2 separate regions of the Homo sapiens genome follow, and region 1 is linked to region 2. The links come from fine-mapping of genetic effects on gene expression. A gene starts in region 2. The other region holds a variant in brackets. All regions are shown on one strand. Distances are between the middles of the regions.

The links. PIP is the estimated chance that this variant, and not a neighbour inherited with it, causes the effect. A credible set is the group of variants that fine-mapping cannot tell apart.
Region 1: its variant is the best candidate, but not a certain one, in a credible set for the expression of CPLANE1 in whole blood (TOPMed, PIP 0.81).

The regions. Positions count from the first base shown.
Region 1 is chr5:37,284,694-37,287,604 of GRCh38, forward strand. No RefSeq gene overlaps it. Among named protein-coding and RNA genes, the nearest start is that of CPLANE1, 37 kb to the left of the region's middle. The variant C/T (reference allele first, on the strand shown) is at 1,248.
Region 2 is chr5:37,247,710-37,250,620 of GRCh38, forward strand. It overlaps CPLANE1 (ciliogenesis and planar polarity effector complex subunit 1), which reads right to left and starts at 1,667. Exons shown (of 53, transcript NM_001384732.1): 1 at 1,536-1,667; 2 at 1-36. It overlaps CPLANE1-AS1 (CPLANE1 antisense RNA 1), which reads left to right and starts at 1,337. Exons shown (of 2, transcript NR_134263.1): 1 at 1,337-1,512; 2 at 2,688-2,911. RefSeq lists silencers at 1,168-1,307, 1,508-1,987.

The DNA.
Region 1 (2,911 bases), 37 kb after region 2:
AATACAAAAATCGGCCAGGTGTGGTGGTGCATGCCTGTAGTCCCCGCTACTCAGGAGGCTGAGGCAGGAGAATCGCTTGAACCTAGGAGGTGGAGATTACAGTGAGCCAGGATCATGCCACTGCACTCCAGCCTGGGTGAGAGTGAGATTCCATCTCAAAATAAATACATAAATAAATTAAAATATCCAATTTAAATTATGCAATTAATTAAAGAATCATCTATTTAATGTCATGACTTCAGGAAAATTTTCAATTTAACATGAAGTGATTTATTTTGTAGGATCCTCTGAATGATGGCATCTCAGAAATATGGGCTTACTCATGATTTTTTGTTTTGGTGAATGGTTAAAAACAACAAAAGACGGCCAGGCACGGTGGCTCAAGCCTGTAATCCCAGCACTTTGGGATGCCGAGGTCAGGAGTTCAAGACCAGCCTGGCCAACAAGGTGAAACCCCATCTCTACTAAAAATACAAAAATTAGCCAGGTGTGGTGGTGGACGCCTGTAATCCCAGCTACAGGGAGCTGAGGCGGAGGTCGCAGTGAGCCGAGATCGCGCCATTCCACCCCAGCCTGGGGGACAGGAGCAAGACTTCATCTCAAAAACAACAACAAAAGAAAAATGTTTATATATCCATATTACGTATACACACACACACACAAACCACAATGGTCCCTAAGTATATGATAACAAATTCTAATTGAGTAATGACTACGGAAATTACCCTCGACATCTAGAAAAGCTGTTCTCTAATGCCAAGGAAATAATATGCCATCGTATCAAACATTCTTTTCCGATAAGGGAAGCAACCACAGAAAGCTTTCATTTGTTGAAAGTAACCAGTGCTATTGATGCAAACAAAACAAAATCCCAATGACTCTCCCCAAACTACTTTTATTTATTTTTGTTTGAGTCAGGGTCTCAATCTGTCACCCGGACTGGAGTGCAGTGGCATGATCTCGGCTCACGGCAACCACTGCCTCTCGGTTTCAAGCTATCCTCTTGCCCCAGCCTCCCAAGTGACTGGATTACAGGCATGTACTACCACACCTGGCTAATTTTTTTTTTTCTTCCCGAGATGGAGTCTCGCTGTGTCACCTGGGCTGGAGTGCAGTGGCATGATCTCGGCTCACTGCAAATTCCACTTCCTGGGTTCAAGCGATTCTCCTGCCTCAGCCTCCTGAGTAGCTGGGATTACAGGTGCCCACCACCACACCTGGCTAATTTTCATATTTGTCGGTAGAGA[C/T]GGGGTTTCACTATGTTGGCCAGGCTAGTCTTGAACTCCTGACCTCAGGTGATCTGCCTGCCTCGGTCTCCTAAAGTGCTGGGATTACAGGTGTGAGCCGTTGTGCCTGGCCTAATTTTTGTACTTTTAGTAGAGAGAGTTTCACCATGTTGATGAGGCAGGTCATGAACCCAAATTACTTTTTTTTTTTTTTTGAGATGGACTTTCGCTCTTGTTGCCCAGGCTGGAGTGCAATGGCACGATCTCGGCTCACTGCAACTTCTGCCTCCTGGGTTCAAGTGATTCTCCTGCCTCAGCCTCCCAAGTAGCTGGGATTACAGGCATGCACCACCACACCTGGCTAATTTTGTATTTTTAGTAGAGATGGGGTTTCTCCATATTGGTCAGATTGGTCTCGAACTCCCGACCTCAGGTGATCCACCTTGGCCTCTCAAAGTGCTGGGATTACAGATGTGAGCCACCGTGCCCAGCCATAACCCGAACTACTTTCAAAATGAACATATCAAACTTGATTTTTATTAGAATGCAGCTATTTCTTCACATTAGTAAAGCAAAAAGCAAGAGCCCGGTTTTATATACACTTCATGTTTTGTTCTTTTGCTAACACCAAGTCTGCTTTATCTGAATTTTCCATTTCATGAGTATCATCAATTCTCCACTGCTGTCTGCATAGCCAATTATTTTTTTCAGGATCAAGGTCTCTTGGTTTGTCTGCAGTATCTCTTTCCTTGATTTTATGTTATCCAACTGTCAGGTAAATATTTTCTTCTTGTATCATCTTTTTCTTTAACAGCTTTTTTGAGAATTAAATGTTCCAAGTAACTCTTGACAAGCTTAAGTTTCTTCAGGTTCCCAAGTACTTTCAGCATCTATAAATCCCTTCCACATCAGGAAATGCACTACCTTACCATTCATCACACATTGATCCAGTACTTTTTCCACTACAAATTCTTCAGGCTCTGCATCAATTTTTTTTTTGGAGATGGAGTTTCGCTCTTGTTGCCCAGGCTGGAATGTAGTGGCGCGATCTTGGCTAACCACAACCTCCGACTCCCAGGTTCAAGCAAATCTCCTGCCTCAGCCTCCTGAGTAGCTGGGATTATAGGCATGCACCACCACACTCAGCTCATTTTCGTATTTTTAGTAGAAACAGGGTTTCTCCATGTTGATCAGACTGGTCTCGATCTCCCAACCTCAGGTGATCTGCCTGCCTCGGCCTCCCAAAGTGCTGGGATTACAGGCGTAAGCCACTGTGCCCGGCCCCAACTTTTTTATTCTATTGTTTCCTTTCCATTTTTTTGCTCACCACCTCATATTGCTCTGGGTTGAAGGTCTGCCGTGTCTCCAGCCCTGCATGCCTCAAGCTCAAGCTGCGTCTCAAGGGCTAAATTTAGATTTTAAAAAGACCACTCTGTCCTTGGTGTGGAAACAGAGATGGAGAGGTCAAAGTAGAGGCAGGAAGACCACTTTGACACTGTTTTAAGCATCCAAGTGAAACAGAGTAACTTTAATCCACCCTGAAAGCCTAAAGTAATGAGACAATTGGGCAGATATGGGGGATATCAAGTAGACTTGCTTAAAAACTGGTTTTGAAGGGAGGACAATGTAATGATTTTCATATTTTCTATTTGAGACAATAAAGAGGTAGAAAACAAGGAAGAACA
Region 2 (2,911 bases):
TATCAATGACCAATTAAGTAAAACAGTCCCAAGATTCTGTAAACAATAATAGTAATAAAATATAAATGATGCATAATATTCACTGGGCATTTTTTTTTTTTTTTTGAGACAAGAGTTTCGTTCTGTTGCCCCAGCTGGAGTGCAGTGATATGATCTCAGCTCACTGCAACCTCCGCCTCCCGGATTCAAGTGATTCTCCTGCGTTAGCCTCCCGAGTAGCTGGGACTACAAGCGTGTGCCACCACGCCTGGCTAATTTTAAGTAGAGATGGGGTTTCACCATGTTGGCCAGGCTGGTCTCAAACTCCTGACTTCAAGTGATCCATCCACTTCGTCCTCCCAAAGTGCTGGGATAACAGGCACGATCCACTGCGCATGGACCACTGAAGATCTTAACTGACAATTTTCATAAAGTTTTGATTTATATTTTATTTCTGAGTTGAAGTTTTGCTCTTGTAGCCCAGGCTGCAGTGCAGTGGCGCGATCTCGGCTCACTGCAACCTCCGCCTCCCGGGTTCAAGCGATTCTCTTGCCTCAGCCTCCCGAGTAGCTGGGATTACAGGCATGCACCACCACACCGGACTAATTTTTTTGTATTTTTAGTAGAAACCGGGTTTCACCATGTTGGCCAGGCTGGTCTCGAACCCCTGACCTTGGGTGATCCGCCCGACTCAGCCTCCCAAAGTGCTGGGATTACAGGCGTGATCCACTGTGCCCGGCCAAATTAGATGGGCTTGTTTTTTTGTTTTTTTAATAAAATAGCTTTAAAAGAAAAACTACTCAGAGACAGCACACAAAGATCTATCAAGATGCTAGCTATCAGTCAGCACGGAGGCTGAGATGGGAAGATCGCTTGAGGACAAGAGAGTTCGAGGCTGCAGTGAGCTGTGATTGTGCCTGTGAGAGCCACTGCACTCCAGCGTGGGCAACGCAGCGAAGACTCCGGCTCAAAAATAAATAAATAAAATTGCAAATAAAATAAATTCTCACAAAAGGGTTAACCAAATGCCAGAGAAACGCCGGCATTAGAAAAGCATCATTTGCAGCTCCTAATGAAATAACAAATCCAGTCAATAGTATCAGCGCTGCTAAAATTATTGAGTGAAAAAATACTGGGAACTTTATGCACTGACATACCCTAAATCCATTAGTCAATCTTAAAATTGCTAAGAGCGAGGAAAATTGACGTTCTATTCCTCCGGATCCTGCTCGAGAAGCTGGGGGACTCGGGTCCGGTGCCGAGGTGTGGCCCGAGCCTGGCACCACCCACGCCGGCCGGGTGACCCCGGCCCCTTGGGGCTCCCGCGCTCCGTCAGCAGGCGACGCTGGGAGGCTGGGGTAGGCCCAGAGCGAGGACGGGCCCGGACTGGGTAGTGGGGATGTACCAGGGCCGGGTGCGGCGGGAGACGGCCCGGGAGGCGGAAGGTCGCGGACCTGCCCGACAGAAGAGTAGATGAGGGGAGACCGAGGACGCCCGGGTCCGGGGAGCTTACGAGGAGGCCAGGATCGCGGGGTAAGGAATCCGCGGGCAGTTACCTCCGCCAGGGGCAGGGTCCGGCCAGTCAGGCGCGAGAAGGCTAGGCGAGGCCGACTGCGCGGGGTGAAGACGCCAGGCCGACAGCTGCGGGCCCTACCGCCAGCCCTGACGCGAGCCTGCGTCCTGGCGACGGCGGAGGGCGGGCAGGGGGCGCGGGCGCTGCCACGGCGCCTGCTCAGAACCGGCCGGGAACGCCGCGGGCGGGTCTCCCCGGTCCTCCGCCCCTCCAGCCCTGCTCTCAGGCCTCCGCCCGGGCCCTCTAAGCTGCCAGCCGCGCCCGCCTCCGGGCTCCTCGCCCCTCCTCCCGCGCGCTCCCCTCCTCAGCGGCCGCCGGACCCCCTCAGTTCACTTCTCCCAGTTAACGCGTTCCTCGGACGCTGCTAGTTTGAGCGCACAGGCATTGGGCGGGGCTCACGGGGGAGCCGCTTAATAACCGACCAACATGAAACTCAAGGGCTGCCCCTTCCTAGCGGGGACCCTGCACAGACCCGAAAATAAGGGGTTTTGCTCTGCCCTCCTCAGTTCACGTGGGCACCTTGGAACACTGAAGAAGGCATTTTCCGAACTCACTGTCCTACGGACTTATTCTCCGCACTGTTTTCGCCTCCTTCGCCCTGTTCTCGTGACTGACAGGAGCAGGGGTCACAAGCAGGCAGCCCGAGAGCTCTGCTCACCTGGAAAAGCATTTTTGTGTAGCTTAAATGTGAAGGCCTCAGGCAGTGGCCTGTTGTCCTCCTCCACATGCGCCCATCTTCACTCTTTCATGTGACTGGCCTGTTTTTGAAGGCAGGACCCTGTCACCCTTGGCTAGGCCAGGTATGTTCTGCACCGAAAATGGCCCTGCCCTCTGCATTGGATGGCTAGCTCTTAGGTTGGTTTATTTTAGCAAATAAGCGTTACAGGGTAGGCGAACTGGCTGCATCAGAACCACAATTACCCCTGTGTCTCTGGGTGGGATAAATGGCGGATGGCATTCTGGCAGCTCAGCCCCACTTATCTCAGAGGTTATAGATCTGAGGTGGTTTAGATCCACCCCCAAATCACGAACATTTTACATAAGCCGTGCTAGAGTTAGCATAAAAGTCTCACAGAAAAATTTGGAAACTGAGAAATCCTAACCTATTCCCACAATCCTGTGTTCCCATTTTTAGGTCTTAAGATATGAAGACAATGGGATAACTGAGGCTGATTTTGCTGTGTGGCCATTAGACCTAGAAATATTGGTGTGATTCTGGAGTTGATTGCTCCACACGTTTATTTATTTATTTTCCTTTTTTTCCCTCCTCTTCCTCCTCCTCTATTCTTTAAAAACGTATGGAAATGTATCCGGCAATGTTTACTGTAAAAAATAATGTATGGAAATGACTACAATTTG